Regions from separate parts of the Homo sapiens genome. Here region 2 is linked to region 1. A link means that fine-mapping ties the variant in region 1 to the expression of a gene that starts in the linked region. Tissue or cell type: whole blood. Region 1 holds a variant in brackets; the other region holds the start of a gene. All regions are shown on one strand. Distances are between the middles of the regions.

Region 1 (9,917 bases):
GGGGTTTAGTTGCAATTTCTCCTTAATTAACTCACTTAAGTCTTCATTAAATGTTGCCTCCAGCTCATCCGTAAGTTGAGACGGAGCCGCTCACATTTCTTGTTCATGAAAAAATCAGCGTCCTATACCATTTTGTTTCTTTTCTGCTATAGCATTTCACACATGCCTAAGCAGTTTGGGGCTCTCCGTATGTGTGTGTGTGTATATATATATGCATATATATATATATATCATTAGGTATATATACGTGTATATATACGTATATATATATTACGTATATATGCGTGTATATATACGTGTATGTATATTATTACGTATATATACGTGTATATATACGTGTATATATATATTACGTATATATACGTGTATATATACGTGTGTATATATATTACGTATATATACGTGTATATATACGTGTGTATATATATTACGTATATATACGTGTATATATACGTGTGTATATATATTACGTATATATACGTGTATATATACGTGTGTATATATATTACGTATATATACGTGTATATATACGTGTGTATATATTATTACGTATATATACGTGTATATATACGTGTATATATTCACGTATATATACACATATATACGTATATATATATTCGTATATATACGTGTATATATACATATATATACACACATACACACATACATATATATACACACACACATATATACACATACATATACATATACATATATATATTTATTTATTTATTGTTGTTCCTGCTGAAAAAGTGAAACATTGATTTAGTGACCACAGAGTTGGCCAGAGAGCAAAAACAGCAAGAACAGGTTTTGGGTGAAAACTGCTGGAGAACTTCTTGGCAAGAAGTCCTCAAATGGGGTAGCCTGGAGGTGGCTCGCTAATGCTGACACCAAATGTGTGTGCCACAGGTGGTGGTGGTTATAGTTGTTGCTGGTTTTTAGCAGGATGGGAGGGAGATGTGCTTTAAGAATCCCAGTTCTGGCCGAGTGCAGTGCGGTGGCTCACGCCTGTAATCCCAGCACTTTGAGAGGCTGAAGTAGGCAGATCACCTGAGGTCAGGAGTTCGAGACCAGCCTGGCCAACACGGTGAAACCCCATCTCTACTAAAAATACAAAATTAGCCGGGCTTGGTGCTGCGTGCCTGTAATCCCAGCTACTTGGGAGGCTGAGGCAAGAAAATGGCTTGAACCCAGGAGGCGGAGGTTGAAGTGAGCTGAGATCGCACCATTGCACTCCAGCCTGGGCAACAAGAACGAAATTCTGTCTTAAAAAAAAAAAAAGAATCCCAGTTCTTGGGGAGGAAGTTGGAATAGAACCAGTTGGGTCATGTGATAGACACTTCCACTGTGTTTTCCAAAGGAAATTTACATTCAGGAAGGAAAACATGTTGAAGAGCGGAAGGAGAGCCAAGAGAGTTGCTCAGTACTTGGGTAATGCATTTCTTATTCAGAGGAAAGTGAGTTTAGCAGGGAAGGAGGGTTCCAGTTCCTCTCTCACCAGTGCTTGGCATGGGTCAGCCCTCCTCATTTTGGACATTTTCATTAATGTGTATTGGCATCTCATTGTGGTTTTATTTATTTATTTATTTATAATTTGTTGTTGTTGTTAGAGACAGGGTCTCACTATGTTGCCCAGGCTGGTCTCAAACCCCTGGGCTCAAGTGATCCTACCGCCTCGGCCTCCCAAAGCATTGAAATTGCAAGCATCAGCCACCACACTCGGCCTACTTTTTAATTTAAAAAAATTTTTTTAGAGACAGGGTCTTGCTATGTTACCCAGGCTAGAGTACAGTGGCTGTTCACAGGCACGAACATTGCACACTACAGCCTCAAACTCCTGAGCTCAAGTGATCCTCCTGCGTCAGCCTCCTGAGTGGGTGGAACTGCAGGCGTGTGCCCCTGGGCCCTCACAGTGGCTTTAATCTGCATTCTCTAATGATGAATAACGTTAAGCATCTTTTCATGTGCTCGTTTGCCATCCATACTGAAAGTTCGTTTTAAAGACAGGATCCATACACCAGCATGTTTGTATTGTGAAAGAAGGTAAATTCTCAGGACCCCAAACTCACTATGCCAAAGAGAAAGTCAAGCTTGGAAACTGAGTCATGCAATACTGCCTTCCCTTTTGTTCCCAAATGGAGAGCTGTATTTTCATAACCCCATGTTCTAGCCTCATGCATAAGCCAGGTGCCCACCAAGACAGAACGTTACGTATCTTCCCAGATGGCTCCCTCACAAGTTGCTCACAAAGTGAGCCCCTAATTCTTTCAGGATACATCTCCCCCTATAAACTAGCCCTAAAAGCAAGTTCTGTTAAATCTCACACTGACAATGTCGATTACCAGCTTATTTTCACATGGATAGGACAAGGACAAGATCGTAAATCATCCTTCCACCTACCCTGAGATAAATGCAGCATGGCCCTATTCCCCTACTCCCTCTTTTCATGTTTACTTTATGTTATGTAAAATGCAGATTTACTGAGCTCAAGATGAATGCAGCATAAACTCTTTACTCCCTCTTTTCACGTTTATCTTATGTAAAATGTGGATTCACTGGGCTTAGGATGAATGCATCACAGACTCTACTCCTTTTCAAGTTTACTTTATCTTGCGTAAAATGTAGATCTACTGAGCTCAAGATGAATGCATCATGGACTCCTCTACTCTTTTCACATGTTTATCCTATGTAAAATGTGGATTTACTGAGCTCAAGATGAATGCATCATGGACTCTTTACTCCCTCTTTTCATGTTTATCTTATGTAAAATGTAGATTTACTGGGCTTGAGATGAATGCAACATGGACTCCTCTACTCCCTCTTTTCATACGTTTATCTTATGTAAAATGTAGATTTACTGAGCTCAAGATGAATGCATCATGGACTCTTTACTCCTTTTTTCACATATTTACTTTACCTTATGTAAAATGTAGATTTCCTGAGCTGGAGAGGAATGCCTCATTGACATGTAAAATGTAGATTTATTGATCGCTAATCAGAGCCTTGGGAGAATGGGACCATTTGCCTCTCTGCCTACCCTCCCTTCCTTTATCCCTCCTGCTTGCTCTTTCCCCTTTAAATAGTGAAGTTCCCAAACCCTCTTTGGAAACTCACAGGTCACAGATGCTCCTGTGGCTGATGTTCCTCCCGGGCGTGTCCTCAAACTGCTGCATCAACCTCAGTCAATGGGGACTCATGACTCATTCCCTTTTTCGGTTAATATTATGTTAATGGGAAAGATCTATTAGGGAGAGAGAAATTGATGGCACAGGAGAGGGAAGAGGGAGTACGTGGAGTGACGTGCTTGAGAGGGTGGCAGGAATGGAATCCAGTTTAGATGGCTGAGGGGCTGGCTTTAGATAGGATGTGGATGGTTCATTTTTTTTTTTTTTTTCTCAAGATGGAGTCTTGCTCTGTCACCCAGGCTGGAGTGCAATGACATGATCTCAGCTCACTGCAACCTCCACCTCCTGGGTTCAAGCGATTCTCCTGCATCAGCCTTCCAGGTAGCTGGGATTACAGGTGCGCACCACCACGCCCAGCTAATTTTTTGTATTTTTAGTAGAGATGGGGTTTCACCATGTTGGCCATGCTGGTCTCAAACTCCTGACCTCATGATCTGCCTGACTCGGCGTCGCAAAGTGCTGGAATTACAGGCGTGAGCCACTGTACCCGGCCTGATGGTTCATGTTATAGCTAAGGCAGGAAGGCAGAGTGAGTGGATGCAGAGGCTGGGAGAGGGCCGATGTTGTCTAGGGAACCTGGGGACACTCTCCTCTGGTCGTTAGTATTTTCTCAGTTAAGGAGAAGGCAAGGTCATCTGCTGAGGATGAAGACATGTTGGGGTTTGAGAAGGAGATCAGGAATGCAAGAATGATCTGGGGAACAAGGGGGGCAAAGAGGGGGCCAGGTGCTGTGGCTCACACCTGAAATCCCGGCACTTTAGGAGGCTGAGGCAGGAGGGTCGCTTGAGCCCATGAGTGCAAGACCAGCCTGGGCAACATGATGAGATCCCGTCTCTACAAAAAATAAAGCATTAGCCAGGCATGGTGGTGCATGCCTGTGGTCCCAGCTCCTGGTTGGGGGGGATGCTATGGTAGGGGAAATCACTTGAGCCCAGGAGGTTGAGGCTGCGGTGAGCTGTGATCGCACCACTGCACTCCAGCCTGGGTGACAGGGGGAGACCTTGTCTCAAAAAAAAAAAAAAAGGAAGAATGACCTTCACGGTGTTCTAAAAAGCAGTGGCTTCCAGTTCAGAAGGGGTTTGCTGCCCTCTGTCTAATGAGTTGGGGTTCTCTTTTCTCCTCCACGTTCTAGGGTTTTGATGCCTCTTAGCGTCACCATCTCTCATTTGGGGAGCAATTATGAATCGTTAGTAAAAGCTCAACTTTTTTAAGATGCAAAACCAGCAAGAAAATTCAGCATGTCCTGGTTTTCTAGACGGCATCCTCAAAGACCACACCCAGGCACTTAATAATTAAGCCTTTTGGGCAAAGTTCTCATTAGAATAAATCAAATAGGCCGGGCACCGTGGCTCACACCTGTAATCCCAGCACTTTGGGAGG[C/T]CAAGCCAGGCGGATCACCTGAGGTTGGGAGTTTGAGACCAGCAACCCCATCTCTACTAAAAATACAAAATTAGCCGGGCGTGGTGGTGCGTGCCTGCAATCCCAGCTACTTGAGAAACTGAGGCAGGAGAATTGCTTGAACCCGGGAGGCGGAGGTTGCAGTGAGCCGACATCGCACCATTACACTCCAGCCTGGGCAACAAGAGTGAAACTCCCTCTCAAAAAAAAAAAGAACTAGGGAAATAGAGTGTGATTTCCTGGCAGGAATTTTGACTGGCATGAGACATTTGACTTGAAAGACCTGTGGAAGACAGCGGGCAGCAGCTGTAGTTTGATACCATCGGATATGACCTGGGATTCCCATTAACCAAATTTGTTGTCATCATGACCCAGTCACCCGATCCAGTCACCCTGAGCCCCACTGCAACTGCTTCAGGTGTTTCCTGGCCAGCGTCGGGGCCGACGAGTAGTGTGATTTGCAAATGCCTGCATTATTCATGTTTTTGATCTATTCTAATGAGAACTTTGCCCAAAAGGCTAAATTATTAAGCGCCTGGGTGTGGTCTTTGAGGATGCCGTCTAGAAAACCAGGACATGCTGAATTTTCTTCCTGGTTTTGCTTCTTAAAAAAGTTGAGCTTTTACTAACGATTCATAATTGCTCCCCAAATGAGAGATGGTGACGCTAAGAGGCATCAAAACCCTAGAAAGTGGAGGAGAAAGAGAACCCCAACTCATTAGACAGAGGGCAGCAAACCGCTTCTGAACTGGAAGCCACTGCTTTTTAGAACACCGTGAAGGTCATTTATGGTGGCCATCCCATTCCCATAGCTTGTCAGCCAAGGTGTTTTTTTATTAGGCTGGTGCAAAAGTTATAATTGCAAAATTATATTACAGTTGCAATAATGCAAAAACCACAATAACTTTTGCACCAACCTAATTAATGAACATGAATCACCTCTAGCGATGGGAGAACACTAAATTCAGGAAATGAAACATGCTCAGCTGCGACCTGGAAGTCCCAGAGAACTGTCCTGGGCTTGGGCAACACATACCCTGTGCATTTAGAGACAGTGAGTTTAACTGTGCATTTAATACATAGGTAACAACAATACTGAAATCTTTTGTTCTTTTATTCATTTTCGGAAAAGAAAATGCATATACACATCTAGATGTAGGTCAAATATGCCGCACTCTTGATAATAACAGAGTTGTCTTCATTTGGATAAAGATTTTAATCACTTCAGTCCCATAATTTCAGGGCAGTTTAAGGGCTATTCATGAATAGCATAGGTATTTGTACAAAAGTCCAGTATTTTTCTGCTGGGTGCACTGGCTCGTGCCTGCAATCCTAGTGTCTGGGGAGGCTGAAGGAGGAGGATTACTTGAGGCTAGGAGCTGAACACCAGCCTGGGCAACATAGCAAAACCCCAGTCTCTACAAAAAAAAAAAATTTAATTAGCTGGTTCTGGTGGTGTGTGCCTGTAGTCCCAGGTACTTTAGAGGTTGAGGTGAGAAGGAGCCATTGAGCCCAGGAGTTCAAGGTGACACTGAGCTATGAGTGTGCCACTGCACTCCAGCCTGGGCAACAGAGTGAGATGAAGGACAGAAGGAAGGAGTGGGGGGGAGAGGGAGGGAGGAAAGGAGGAAGGGAGGGAGGAAAGGAGGAAGAGAGGAAGGAAAGAAGGAAGGGGGGGAGAGAAGGAGGGAGGGGGAAGACAAGGAGGGAAGAAGGAAGGGAGGGAGGGAGGGAAGAAGAAAGAAAAGGAAGTTAGGAAAGGAGGGAGGGAGGGAAGGAAGGATGTTGAATTTCCTGCCTCCTTGATAGGATGGGAGGGATTGGAGTGAAAATTTCGTTGACTTATTATATTAAAAAACCAAATGTGTTGTTTGATTTTCTGACATCTGACCTGTGTACTGAGAATTTAAACTCACTCAACTCCCAGTAATAACTGCTAAAACCATTTGGGTGAATTTCTCTGTAGTCTTTTACTGATATGTGGTGGATACATATTGTGTCAATTTAGCAAAACTGGGACTGCATTTCCTAAATTTCCCCTCCCTGTCTAGTTCCAGTTTATTGTGAGCAAGAAGACATATCTGTGGAGGGTGGAGGTTGGCACTGGTTACCATGTAACCCGCTCCCACAATTGTGTAAGGTCCAGTCCCTATAACCGCCGTCCTGTGTCTATAAATATATATTTTCCAATTTACAAAATACATTTAACGTAGTGCCTGTTTCACTTTACAATATGTGGTGGATATTTTTCCATATCATTAAGTAGACTTGTAGACTATCCTTTTATTTTTTATGGCCCATCAATTAACAAATCCCTGCACATTGGACGTTGAGGTGATTTCCAATTGCTAAGAGAAGCAAAATCTTTGTGTCCATCCACAATAGTTTGTTTGTTCATTTTCCTTGCAGTTCTTTAAAAAAAATTCCTCCTTGCCTTCTGGCCTGCATTGTTTCTGATCAGAAGTCTGATGTCACTCGGTGCAGTGGCGTGCACCTGTAATCCCACCTACTCAGGAGGATCGCTTGGGCCCAGGAGTTCAAGACAAGCCTGGGCAACATAGCAAGACCCCATCTCAAAAAAAAAGAAGAGAAGTCTGATGTCAATCTTTTCTTTGTTCCTCTGAACATATTGTGTCTCTTTTTTCTGGCTGCCTTTATGACCTTCATCTTCTCTTTATCACTGGTTTTAAACAATTTTATAATAATGCGCCCTTTATACGTGTTGGCTCTTCCTCCTCCTCCTTTTTCCTCCTCTTATTTTTTCTGGAGGTTCATTGAGCTTCTTGAGCCTGCTTTCATCCAATGTGGAAAATTTTCTGCCATTATTTCTTCAAATATTTTTCTGGTCCCTCCTCTTTCTCCTTTTCTCTGAGACTCCAATTACATGTATATTAGGCCACTTGAAGTTGTCCAGTAGCTCACTGATGTCTGGTTTTATTTCTTCCAGAATTGTTTCTCTCTGTGTTTCAGCTTGTATCTTTTCTATTGTGATGTGGGGGTGTTTGGGAGGGGACTGGTTCTGTTTTGGGGGGTTGTTTTTTCTAAGATGGGGTCTTGCTATGTTGCCCAGGCTGGAGTGCAGTGGCACAATCTTGGTTCACTGCAGCCTTGACCTCCTGGGCCCAGGTGATCCTCCCCGGTAGCTGGGACCACCACACCTGGCTACTTTTTAAAATTTTTTTGTAGAGATGGGGTTCCACCATGTTGTCCAGGCTGGTCTCAAACTCCTGAGCTCTAGTGATCCACCCACCTCAGCCTCCCCAAGTTCTGGGATTACAGGAGTGAGCCACCGCACCCGGCATCTTTTCCATTGCTATGTTTTCAAACTCATTACTCTTTTTTTCTTCGGTGTCTAATTTGCTAATCCCATCCAGTGTATTTTTCTTCTCTAGCTTCACTGTGTTTTGTTGTCGCTATTGTTTTGTTTTGTTTTTTTGGAGACAGGGCCTACCAAGGCTGGAATGCAGTGGCAAGATCACAGCTCACTACAACCTCAACCACCTGGGCTCAAGCGATTCTCCTGCCTCAACCTCCTGAGTAGCTGGAGTCACAGGCATGCACCACCACACCCAGGAGAACTTTTTAATTTTTGTAGAGATGGGGGTCTCACTATGTTGCTCAGGCTGGTCTTGAACTCCTGGCCTCAAATGGTCTCCCACATTGGCCTCCCAAAGTGCTGGGATTACAGGTGTGAGCCACCGCGCCCGGCCACTCCCATCTTTATTTCAGCCTTTTCTTCCCCCAACAATGCTCTAGTGAGCTCACGAAGACACAGCCAGCCAAAGGTCTAAAGGGATTTTGCCATCAGTTTCACTGAGTAATTTAGAGCAAGTGTCTAAGAGTGAGGGGGAAAAAAGACATAGCCAGTAGTCTCTCAGATAATTTTAAGGAATTGTCCTCTCCTGCAGCATTTCAATAAGAAATGATGTAGCTTCTGTCTTCCTTTGAGGGTCAGTTAGAAGGCACTGGGAACGTGAAGTCTGACACCCATAACAGCTCTGGGCTACCCAGAAAGTCAGACCAGTACTCATGCTACTGAGTCCAGGCCGAGCACGGTGGCTGATGCCTATAATCCCAGCACTTTGGGAGGCCAAGTCAGGTGGATCACCTGAGGTCAGGAGTTCGAAACCAGCCTGGCTAACATGGTGAAACCCTGTGTCTACTAAAAATACAAAACTTAGCCAGGCATAGTGGTGTCCGCCTGTAATCCCAGCTACTTGGGAGGCTGAGATGGGAGAATTGCTTGTACCCGGGAGGCAGAGGTTGCAGTGAGCTGAGATCGCGCCATTGTACTCCAGCCTGGGCAACAGAGTGAGACTCTGTCTCAAAAACAAACAAAACAAAACAAAACAAAAAGGACTGAGTCCAAAGTTCCACATAGCTAGGCTGACTTCATACCATTGGTATTCTGAATACAGTACTGACAGAAAGCTTCAGGAATAAAAGAGAGAAGAGAGGAACTCAGGAAGCATGAGTGTTCCCCACGAGGGGGTGCCAGGCCCTCCTAGACACACCTGTGAACATACCCCTTCCCCAAGGCCATTGGCAGCTGGAGTCTTAAAATATTTCCTGCAGCTCTGGCTGGGCACGGTGGCTCATGGCTGTAATCCCAGCACTTTGGGAGGCCGAGGCAGGTGGATCACTTGAGGTCAGGAGGTCGAGACCAGCCTGACCAACATGGTGAAACCCTGTCTCTACTGAAAATACAAAAATTATCCAGGCATGGTGGTGTGTGCCTGTAGTCCCCGCTACTCAGGAGGGTGAGACAGAAGAATCACTTGAACCCAGGAGGTGGAGGTTGCAGTGAGCCGAGATGGCACCACTGCACTCCAGCCATGGCAACAGAGATTCCATCTAAAAAAGAAAATTTAAAAATTTAAAAAATATATTTCCTGCAGCACTGTATCCTCCCCTATGATCTCATTCCCACCTGCACCCTTCTCCAGTCCCCTCCTACCTGCTCCCACCTGCGTTACCCCAGAACAGCTTCTTCTGCACTACCCAGCAACAACTCACCGCCCTGCCCATAATCCGCACGTGCTTGCCCTGGCAGCCTCATCCTAACCTCTCGGAAGCACTCAACTTGCCGGGTCCATCCTTCCTTCTTGAAGCATTCATACCCTTGCTCCCGCCCCTGACATTGGCTGACCCAGGACAAGAGCACAGAGGCCCACGCGCCACGTGTGTGAATTGCAAGTGAAACTGACAAGCGGTTAAATACAGTATGTTTGCGCCATCCTCCAGCCTTGACAAGAGTATTCTCATAGCAACAAAACCATAGCTGTGACATCTTTGCTTTGTTTTCTTCGTTATTATATATTTTGGGCAGAG
Region 2 (11,193 bases), 750 kb after region 1:
TGGCTCTCCTAGCCTGAAGTGAGAGACAGCAAACATGGAGCACTGAAAGATGGAGCTTACCTTGCAGGGAAGAAATTGAACCTCCTGGGGCCGGGCGCAGTGGCTCACGCTTGTAATCCCAGCACTTTGGGAGGCCAAGGTGGGCGGATCACTTGCGGCCAGGAGTTCGAGAACAGCCTTAGCAACATGGTGAAATTCCATCTCTACTAAAAATACAAAAATTAGCTGGACGTGGTGGTGTGCGCCTGTAAAATCCCAGGTACTCGGGAGGCTGGGGCAGGAGAATCGCTTGAACCCAGGAGGCAGAGGCTGCAGTGAGCCAAGGTTGTGCCACTGCATGCCAGCCTGGGTGACAGTGAAATTCTGTTTCAAAAAAGAGAAAATTGGCTGGGCGCAGTGGCTCATGCCTGTAATCCCAGCACTGTGGAAGGCCGAGGTGGGCAGATCACCTGAGGTCAGGAGTTCAAGACCAGCCTGGCCAACATGGTGAAACCCCGTCTCTACTGAAAATACAAAAATTAGCCAGGTGGGATGATGTGCACCTGTAGTCCCAGCTACTCAGGAGGCTGAGGCAGGAGAATCACTTGAACCCCAATTGCTTGTTGTTTTGACACAGAGTCTCACTCTGTCACCAGGCTGGTGTGCAGTAGTGTCATCTTGGCTCACTGCAGCCTCCACCTGCTGGGTTCAAGTGATTCTCCTGCCTCAGCCTACCAAGTAGCTGGGACTATAGGCACCTGCCACCACGTCCAGCTAATTTTTGTATTTTTAGTAGAGACAGGGTTTCACTATGTTGGCCAGGATGGTCTCGATCTCTTGACCTTGTGATCCACCTGCCTCGGCCTCCCAAAGTGCTGGGATTACAGGCGTGAGCCACCGTTCCTGGCTGATTATTTTCATGCAACACACTTCCCTGTCCTGGCACGGTTGATGGCATTTATTGGGTGTTTGACCTGAAGAGTGACAACCGACATTTGCACACTAGACCACTGCCAATGCATGCTTTCCGTTTTTTAAAATTGTATTATTTTTATTTTCCTTTTTATTCTATTCAGAGAATGCAAGCATTTCTAGGGAAGGACTCTTGAGAACGTGCTCTATTAAAATGAAGGGCAGCATCATCGATGCTCACTGCAGCATTAATCTTGGTGTTTCTCCCTAGTCTGCTGCTCCTCCCCAGAACAGAATCCAAATCTTTTCCATCATCTCCAGGAGGAGACAAACTTCCTGCAGCCCCACAGCTGCCGTCTGGGAGCAGCTCTAAGTCTGTCTTATTCCACTCCCTTTCAAGGCACCTGCTACTGGCCCACCAGCTTTTCTTCTCAGGCGCAAAGGATCAATAATCAAAATGGCACTGGACTTCTCTACTAGCAACTCTGGAAGCTAGAAGACAATGAAACTGTTAGTTGCACCACGGCACTCCAGCCTAGGAGACAGAGTGAGACTCTGTCTTGGAAAAAAAAAAAGTGTCTTTAACATTCTGAGGGGAAACAATTGCCAATCTATAATCTATAGCTGAGACAGGGCTGGGCACAGTGGCTCACACCTGTAATCCCAGCACTTTGGGAGGCCGAGGCAGGTGGATCACGGGGTCAGGAGTTCAAGACCAGCCTGGTCAACATGGCAAAATCCCATCTCTACTAAAAATACAAAAATTAGCTGGGTGTGGTGGCAGGCACCTGTAATCCCAGCTATTCAGGAGGGTGAGGCAGGAGAATTACTTGAACCTGGGAGGTGGAGGTTGCACTGAGCTGAGATTGCACCACTGCACTCCAGTCTGGGCAACAGAGCAAGACTCTGTAAAAAAAAAAAAAGGAAAAGCTGAGACAGGAAGATCACTTGAACCCAGGAGTTCAAGGCTGCAGTGAGCCATGATGGCACGACTGCACTCCAGCCTGGGTAACAGAGCAAGATCTTGACTCAAAAAATAAGAAAGAGACAGACATGGTGTGAGAACAGGGATTAGTATGAGGATAACAAAGGCAAATCCCGGAAGGACGGCGGTGGAGGGGGGGGTCCCAGGTTGACAGTGGGCAGCAGCTCTGACAGCAGCCTGCCCAGTGTGGGTCTGCAGGGAGGAAGCCCCTGAAGAAACGCCCCTGGGAAACAGTGAAGCAAATACCTTCCTGACCAGATTGGCTAGGTGGAAAGTTGAGCTGGGAGGTATTTATAGCTCCAAAGGAGGATGTGGGAAGGCTTACTAAAAGATTCTAGCTGGGGCCGGGCATGCTGGCTTATGCCTGTAATCCCCGCACTTTGGGAGGCCAAAGCAGGTGGATCACTTGAGGTCAGGAGTTCGAGACCAGCCTGGCCAACATGGTGATACCCTGTCTCTACTAAAAATACAAAAATTAGCCATGTGTGGTAGCTTGTGCCTGTAATCCCAGCTACTCAGGAGGCCGAGACAGGAGAATCACTTGAACCTGGGAGGTGGCGGTTGTGGTGAGCCGAGATCAAGCCATTGTACTCCCCCCGGGAAACGAGTGAAACTCCATCTAAAAAAAAAAGATTCTAGCCCAGGCCGGGCATGCTGGCTTACGCCTGTAATCCAAGCACTTTGGGAGGCTGAGGCGGGTGGATGACTTGAGGTCAGGTGTTTGAGACCAGCCTGGCCAACATGGTGAAACCCCGTCTCTACTAAAAATACAAAAATTAGCCAGGCGTGGTGGCACATACCTGTAGTTCCCAGCTACTCGGGAGGCTAAGGGAGGAGAGTCACTTGAGCCTGGGAGGCAGAGGTTGCAGTGAGCTGAGATCACGCCACTGCACTCCAGCCTGGGTGACAGAGCAAGACTCCATCTCTAAATAAATAAATAAATAAAATAGCTGGGTGCAGTGGCTCATGCCTGTTAATCCTAGCACTTTGGGAGGCTGGGGTGGGAGGATTGCTTGAGGCCAGGAGTTCAAGACAAGGCTGGGCAACATAGGGAGACCTCGTCTCAACAAAAAAAATTAGCCTGGTGTGGTGGTGCATCCCTGTAGTCCTAGCTACTTGGGAGGCTGAGATGGGAGGATCACCTGAGCCTGGGAAGTTGAGGCTGCAGTGAGCTGTGATTGTGCCACTGCACTCTAGCCTGGGCAATGGGAGTGAGACCCTGTCTCAAAAACAAACCACAAAAAGCTCAGTGGGAGGAACTGTGTGTGGACTGGGTGGGACCCCTCTCTGGTGGCACAGGTGAGCAACGAGCCTAGGGGAGGGGAGCAGAGCCTGCAAGGTGTCAGAGAAGGGGCCAAGAGGAAGGTGAACCGAGGTGTTTCTCCCTGGACAGCATGGCAGAAGTGTCCAGTGCTGCCCAGAGGCCAAATATGATGAGGGTTTAGTGACGTGGACATTGCTGGTGACGTCACGGGGAGTTGTCTGGCTGCAGTGAGGCCAGGTCAGAGAGGAGAAGGAGGGATGGGCAGATGGGGATATGGCAAAGGAAGTTTGGCTGTCAAGGGCAGGAGAGAGAAGTGGGTAGCTCTTTTATGTTTTACAGACAGTCTTTTTTTTTTTTTTTTTTTTGAGACGGAGTCTCACACTGTCGCCAGGCTGGAGTGCAGTGGCGTGATCTCGGCTCACTGCAACCTCTGCCTCCTGGGTTCAAGTGATTTTCCTGCCTCAGCCTCCTGAGTAGCTGGGACTACAGCATGCGCCACCACGCCAAACTATATATATATATATATATATATATTTTTTTTTGTATTTTTATTAGAGACAGGGTTTCACCATGTCGGCAAGGATGGTCTCTATCTCTTGACCTCATGATCTGCCCACCTTAGCCTCCCAAAATGCTAGGATTACAGGCGTGAGCCACCGTGCCCGGCCAGCAGACAGTCTTGCTCTGTCGCCAAGGCTGGAGTGCAGTGGCATGATCATGCCTCACTGCAGCCTCCAAAGCCAGGGCTCTCACGATTCTCCTGCCTTGGCCTCCCAAAGTGCTGGGATTACAAGCATAAGCCACTGCGCCTGGCCCGGGTAGCATGTTTTTAAGATGGGAGAGCCCTGAGGATGTGTAAATCCTGTCAGAAAGAAGCCAGTGGAGGGAGAGGATAAAGACCTGAGGAGGGAGGGGCTCCTCAGGGCATGAGGGTTTGCAGGAGGCTAGAAGAGGCAGGTGCACACCTGCTCTGATCTTAAACTCCTGCCCATATCCTCCTCACCTTATCTGCTCGTCCTTATCCTGCCTAGCAGGCTGTCATCTCCACTTCACAGACGCAAGGCAGTCATTTGCCTGCAGTTACCTGGCTGCAAAAGGTCCCATGACCCTAGATGACTCTGTCTCCAAAGCCAGGCTCTTGCTGCACTTTTTCTAGCCTGGGGCAGAAGCCACCAGAGTGCAGGCTTTTCAGGCAAGGGCCAGAAAGGAAGCCTGAAACTCCAGTGCCTGTGGGGGCCAGAGAGATTCCAAAAACAGGACAAGGTGGCCACCTGTGCCACAGCAGTGTGAGCCCAGGGACAGGAGGAAGGGAGGGGGCTGTGAACCCTGAGGGCTCTTGTCCCCCACCAGGGGGGCATTCCTGCTGCACCCCAGGAGCACCTCCCAGATTCAAGCGATTCTCCTGCCTCAGCCTCCAGAGTAGCTGGCGTTACAGGCATGTGCCACCATGCCCGGCCAATTTTGTATCTTTAGTAGAGATGGAGTTTCTCCATGTTGGCCAGGCTGGTCTCCAACTCCAGACCTCAGGTGATCTGCCCGCCTCGGCCTCCCAAAGTGCTGGGATTATAGGCGTGAGCCACCGCGCCCAGCATGTTTGCTTGTTTTTAGATGGAGACAGGGTCTCACTCTATCACCCAGGCTGGGGTGCAGTGGCGCGATCATAGTTCACTGCAGCCTCGACCTCCTCCCGGGCTCAAGTGGTCCACCCACCTTGGCCTCCAAAGTAGTTGGGATTACAGGCTACTTTTCAGTAGCCCAGCTAATTTTTTAAAAACCTCTTTTGTAGAGATGGGGTCTTGCTATGTTGGCTAGGCTGGTCTCAAACTACCAGCCTCAAGTGATCCTCCCGAAATGCTGGGTTTACAGGCGTGAAGTACCATGCCCTGCCCCCAGATCTTTGGTTTTTTCTAAAGAATTTGAGCATCCCAATTTGAATTTGAATTCTCCAGGTTAGAGAGGTTTGTGCACCGAGAACAGGAAAGTTAGGTGGTGCAACATTAAGACGGGGTTAGGGAAGGCCTCCCTTGGAGAAGACCCCTGACCCAGGCAGGAATCCACTTGCCAAGTAGGGAAAGAGGAGAGGAGAGGGTGAGGGAGGTGGGAGGCCTGACCACCAGCCTTGTGGTCAGCGAAAGGCCGCAGGGGCGCTGGGCGGGAGGATTCCAGCTCTGCCAGTTCTCCACGGTGGCCTCATTTGATCTATGCAGGTCACAGTCCCTGATCGGGGGAGGGAGGCACACACTCCCTACTGGCCTGCCCTCCCCAGCCCCGGGGTCTAGGAGGAGGGCTCCACGGTGCGGACCGGGGTGGCCTCTCCAGGGCCCGCTCGGGCCGGGCCCGGATGGCGCCTACTCCCTCTCCGAGTGCCATCGAATTGTGTGCTAATTAGCCACAATTTGCACCGCGGCAGGGGCGCCCCGAGGCCACGCCTGCCCTCTAGGGGGTGGCAGGGATCGGGTTGGGTACCCCCCACCCAGACACCCAGGCAGTGACAGTCGCCAACCCCGTGGCGCGAGGACACGCGCAGCAGGGATGCGGCACAGCGCGCGCTGCGCTCGGCACCGGCCAGCCCGGGACGCCCCAGGGGCCGCCGCATCGTGTCCCCCGGGCCGGGTGAGTGGCCGGGCCGGGAATGGTTAAGCCCACCGAGCTGCGGCTGCCTAGAGCGGCGGCGGCGACGGCGGCGGCGGCGGCGGGGGCCGGGGCGCGGGGGCGCGGCGGGCGGGCAGGGGCGGGGGACAGGATGCGGATGCCGGGGGGACTTCCTGTGCCGGCCCCCGCGCCCCCGCCCCCGGCCCGGCCAGCGGCCCGCACGGACGCACTCCCGGGCGGGCGGGCGAGCCCAGGGGGACCCGGCCTTGCCGCGGCGCCCGCCCCGCCCCCGCCCCGGCCCCCGCGCGGCCCGGCCCAGGCCGCCCGCAGGCTCCGGGCACCTGTAGCCCCCGAGGACCCGCGTCGCCTGGCCGCCGCCGACCCCAGGCGGGGCCACCCCGTGGTGCCGACCCCGGGCGCCGGCCTGGATCCCGCTGCCCGCGATGGTCCCGGGGGGCCGGCCCTGAGCCCCGCGCGGGATTCGGGGCCCTGCCTCCCGCCCCAGCCCCCGCCGGAGAGTCTCCACCAACTTCTGCTCGGCCGCTCCTCTCAGCCCCTTCCCTTGGCCCAGGGCGACCTCGGCAGCCCAGAGGGCGTGGACCCTCCGGAGTGCCCAGAAAGCCCCCGGGGTGGCCCTGCGCCTCCTGGCTCTTTCTGGATGGAGGCGCCTCCGGAAGGAGCCGGCTGCACGCCGTGGCCTTCACCTCGCAGCCTCTGCTGACCACACCTCCCTAGCGCAGAGGCTGCCCGGGAGCAGGAAATGCTCCACCAGGTGAGGCCCAGGGGGTCGTTGGCGCTGGGCAACCGGGGACGCGTCCCTTGAGAGAGTTTGGACTGGATGGCACGAGTCGGCCTGTTTAGGGGAGAGGGGCCAGCTCTGCACGGGCCAGGGTGGACTCTCAGGAGCGCCTGGGCACAGGGCCAGGCCGTGGGTGACAGTGCTCTGGACACCTGCCTTGCCCGGGAGCTGGGGTGGCAGCTGACACACGTGGCCTGCTGGCGGCCTTCTCAGAGCAGGCCAGGAAGGCAATAGAATGGAAGGGCGCCAGGCGCAGTGGCTCACTCCTATAATCCCAACACTTTAGGAGGCCGAGGCAGGAGGATCGCCTGAGGCCAGGAGTTCGAGACCAGCCTTGGGCAACATCATCTACAATATAAAAAAACATAAAAATTAGCTGGGGGTGATGGCACGCACCTGTAGCCCCAGCTACTCAGGAGGCGGAGGCAGGAGAATCGCTTGAACTGGGGAGACGGAGGTTGCAGTGAGTCCAGATCGCACCACTGCACTCCAGCCTGGGTGACAGAGTGAGAATCCGTATCAAGAAAAAAAAAAAAAAGTATTTAATAAAAAAAGAATTGAAGGAGGCAGGGAGGATGTTGATGGACAGTCTCTCTTTGGCCCCAGAGCTCCCCGCCCTGAATGTCCCTTTGGTGACTCTAGCTTTCCTCCCTTGTGAAGGGCTGATACCCACAGTTGTGTCTCTGTGGGGCTACCCCACTCTCCATCCCGCTGTGAAAAGTCAGGAGAGGCAGTCCTGCCTCTATGCAGGTGACAGCCTCTGGTGCTGTCTGCCAACTCCCCAGTCCTGAGCCTCCAGGCCGCCGGCACTCCCCGTTCCCCGTTGCGGGGGACAGTCCTATAGTTGCAGCAGGTATGGAGCTGACCGCTCTGGGTGGCCCGAGGCAGAGGTGGAGGGCCTTTGGGGGCCTGTGGGCACCTGGCGGGGGTCAAAGCACTCCAGCCTGGCTAAACTGCTTCCTTCCTTTCAGCACAGCCGACTCCCGGGAATCGGGGTCTGACCGCCAGGATGGAAGTGGGGCCAGCCACCGAGACCTTCGTGCTGGAACTTCAATGTCTTGAGGATGGGGGCCCAGGGCCTGACACCCTCTCAGGTGAGGGCCTCGGGGGATCCCTTGACAGAGCCTCATGCCTGCCTGCTGTGGCAGAAAGAGGCTCAAGGGTGGCGGGCAGCCTGCACAGACTCACACCAGCCAACCTCAGCTGCATTGAGTAACACCAGCAGCTCTCCCTTGAGATTTTCCAAGGTGGCTGTGTCAGGCAGGCTGAGGCCAGGCTGGTGAGGGGCTCCCCGCTCCCCACATGGGTGCTGACTGGACTTAACACTCACACGCGCTGCTGGCTGGAACTCATTGCTGTGTTTCCTGGCAGCCAGAGGGCCTCCACCATCCTCCCACCTGGCCCCAGCTCCTGAGTCAATTTCCACTCAATTTCCCGGATCCGATTCAGGTACTAATAGGCTCTCTTCCTCTGCCCCTCCTGCCCCAGATGTTGGCTCCCTGGCTTCTTCTCCCCTGTGGCCTCGTAACCTTTTCCACTTTAGCTTGACCTCTGCTTGCATCTGTTTTTCTCTACCTGATGCCCAGGGGCAGATGTGGTACTGCAGAACCTTCCAAGACCTCTTCCTCTGGGACCCACTCTGGGCAAACCTTCTCTGGTGGCCACACTCATGAGAGCCAGTTTCCATTCTGTGCTTTAAGGGTGCTGAGTGAGGGCCTGGGGCAGGGCGGGACAGAGCTTGAAAAGGACCAAGGGAATTGGAGGGGGTGGGATGGGGATGTGTGGAGTCAAGAAGGACCGTTCTGACCGAGCATGATGGCTCATTCCTGTAATCCCAGCACTTTGGGAGGCCGAGGCGGGCAGATCAGTTGAGGCCAGGAGTTTGAGACCAGCCTGGCCAACATGGTGAAACACTGTCTTTACTACAAATACAAAAATGAGCTGGGTGTGGTGGGCACCTGTAATCTCAGCTACTCGGGAGGCTGAGGCAGAAGAATCACTTGAACCCAGGAGGCAGAGGTTGCAGTGAGCCAGGATCATGCCACTGCACTCCAGCCTTGGTGACAGAGTGAGAGTCCGTCTCAAAAAAAAGAAGAAGAGGAAAAGAAGACCCTTCTGACTTGTAAATTTACCTGACAAAACTTTGGGAGGGTATACACGTCAGACAACACTGGACTAGATGTTCACTAAAATGCCTTTGTTAAAAATGCTGAGGTCAGGCACAATGGCTCACACCTGTAATCCCAGCACTTTGGGAAACCGAGGCAGGTGGATCGCTTGAGCTCAGGAGTTCGAGACCAGCCTGTGAAACATGGCAAAACCCCATCTCTACAAAAAGTTTAAAAAATTAGCTAGGCGTGGTGTTGTGTACCTATAGTCCCAGCCACTTGAGAGGCTGAGATGGGAGGATCGCTTGAGCTTGAGAGGTTGAGGCTACAGTGAGCTGAGATTGCGCCACTACACTCCAGCCTGGGTGACAAGAGTGAGATCCTGTTTAAAACAAACAAACAAACAAAAACTGAAATTGCTGCCCCAGGGAGTCAGAGTGGCCTGTGGTCAAGACTGTGCCAGAAAAGAGGAGACTCAACACAGAGGCATGATCTGTCTCATTCCTCCCAGAAGAGGTGGGAGAAAGGAGGGTCCATGAGACATTGGACTTGCTGGGGGGACAGTTTTCACCCTGTCTTCTACCATGTGCTTCCCCCCAGCCAATGTCAGTGTCTATGAAAAGCACGCTCACGGATCTGTTAGCCTAACCAAAGGTTATTAGGAATATTTTACTAGAGGAAATTATATGCATACAGATCTCCCTTGGTGGATTTTTTTTTTTTTTTTTTTTTTTTTGAGACAGAGTCTCACTCTGTTGCCCAGGCTGGATTGCGGTGGCTCAATCTTGACTCACTGCAACCTCCACCTCCTGGGTTCAAGCAGTTCTCCTGCTGCAGCCTCCCGAGTAGCTGGGACTATAGGTGCCTGCCACCATGCCCGGCTAATTTTTGTATTTTTAGTAGAGACAGGGTTTCACTATGTCCCTTGGGTTGTTGTTTTTGTTTGTTTGTTTGTTTGTTTGTTTTTTTGATAAGGAGTCTTGCTCTGTCGCTGGGCTGGAGTGCACTGGCGTGATCTCAGCTCACTGCAACCTCTGCCTTTCAGGTTCAAGTGATTCCCCAGCCTCAGCCTCCCGAGTAGATGGGACTACAGGCGCACACCACCACGCCCGACTAATTTTTTGTATTTTAGTAGAGATAGGATTTCGTCATGTTGGCCAGGATGGTCTCAATCTCCTGACCTCGTGATCCATCTGCCTCGGCCTCCCAAAGTGCTGGGATTATAGGCGTGAGCCACCGCGCCCGGCCATCCCTTGGTTTTATTAAATCAATATATTCTTGGAAAAATGGCCAGAAAGCAAACTTTTATAAATCAAAGCATTGTCTTCCATTACAAAATGGAAAACATATGATGTTATAGGGAGAAGAGATGTTGAAATCAGAGTTGGGAACGGAGAAAGCCTCCTCAAGTCACATGTAGAAAGAAGGATTGGGATTTTCCAGTAGCACAATAGTAATACTCAAAACGAGAATCTCATGGTGTACACGGTGCGGAAAGAGAAGCGTAGTAACGGAGTGGTGCTGTTTTTGCAGGGCCTCCCAGGTTTATGCCTCCCAAAGTGTTGCGATTACAAGCATGAGCCACCACGCCCAGCCTAGTTAGTCCTTTGTATTCCTGAATGACAATCTCAAACAGTCCCAGTCTCCTTGGTATTTTTTTGTTACTTTGCAAACCAATCCTAACCTTCAGAGAGAGGGAATTTTCAAGCACCTACCAGGCTCCAGGTACTATGCCAGGGCTCTCCTTGTTGTACTGTTTAAGCAGATGGTGTGGGTATCACTGAGCTATTTTGTAGACAGGACTGTGAGCCTGCAGGAGGTTGTATACCTGCCGACTGGTAGAGTTAGGTTCTGAACTGAGAACTTCCTGTCTGAAACCTAGTGGTCTCTCTGACACTTTGGTGATTTTGGGAAACTACTTGTGGTAACACCTCCGGGCAGCTTTATATAAATTCTTTATTATTTACAGAGAAGGATAATTTCATTTATTTAAGGTGTGGCTGTAAGGTCGGAGTTCAGCATGGGGTTGATGGCTTGGCCGTTGGGACAGCCAGTTCAGTGGTTTCTACTGGAGGGTGATTAAGCGCAAGAGACTTCTCAGGATGGTCAGGGAGCCCCCAGCATCCCTGCTAGTGCCAGTGCCGAGATCAGAGCATGGGGCCTGTGTAAAGGGAAGCTCCAAGGAGGGATCAGGGAGCTGGGGTCCAGAGGGAGGTCACCAGCAGTCCCTTGGCCACCTACCTTCCTTCCTTCCCTTCCTTCCCTTTCTTCCCTTCTTCCTTTCTTTCTCTCTCTCTCTTTCTCTCTCTCTCTCTTTTGAGATGGACTCTCCCTCTGTCACCCAGGCTGGAGCACAGTGGTGTGATCTCGGCTCACTGCATCCTCCACCTCCTGAGTTCAAGTGATTCTCCTGCCTCAGCCTCCTTAGTAGCTGGGACTACAGGCACCTGGCAGCTAATTTTTTGTATTTTTAGTAGAGACAGGCTTTCGCCATGTTGCCCAGGCTGGTTTCGAACTCCTGAGCTCTGGCAATCTGCCCACCTCGGCCTCTCAA

Evidence for each region. PIP is the estimated chance that this variant, and not a neighbour inherited with it, causes the effect.
Region 2: ZNF853 starts here. The variant in region 1 is the best candidate, but not a certain one, in a credible set for the expression of ZNF853 in whole blood (TOPMed, PIP 0.57).

Annotation. Positions count from the first base shown.
Region 1 is chr7:5,860,151-5,870,067 of GRCh38, forward strand. It overlaps a transcript of OCM not described here. Among named protein-coding and RNA genes, the nearest start is that of OCM, 16 kb to the right of the region's middle. RefSeq lists a silencer at 8,948-9,242. The variant C/T (reference allele first, on the strand shown) is at 4,569.
Region 2 is chr7:6,609,683-6,620,875 of GRCh38, forward strand. ZNF853 (zinc finger protein 853) reads left to right here and starts at 5,928. Exons shown (of 3, transcript NM_017560.3): 1 at 5,928-6,504; 2 at 7,508-7,625. The coding sequence starts at 6,493. RefSeq lists enhancers at 4,058-4,811, 4,812-5,565.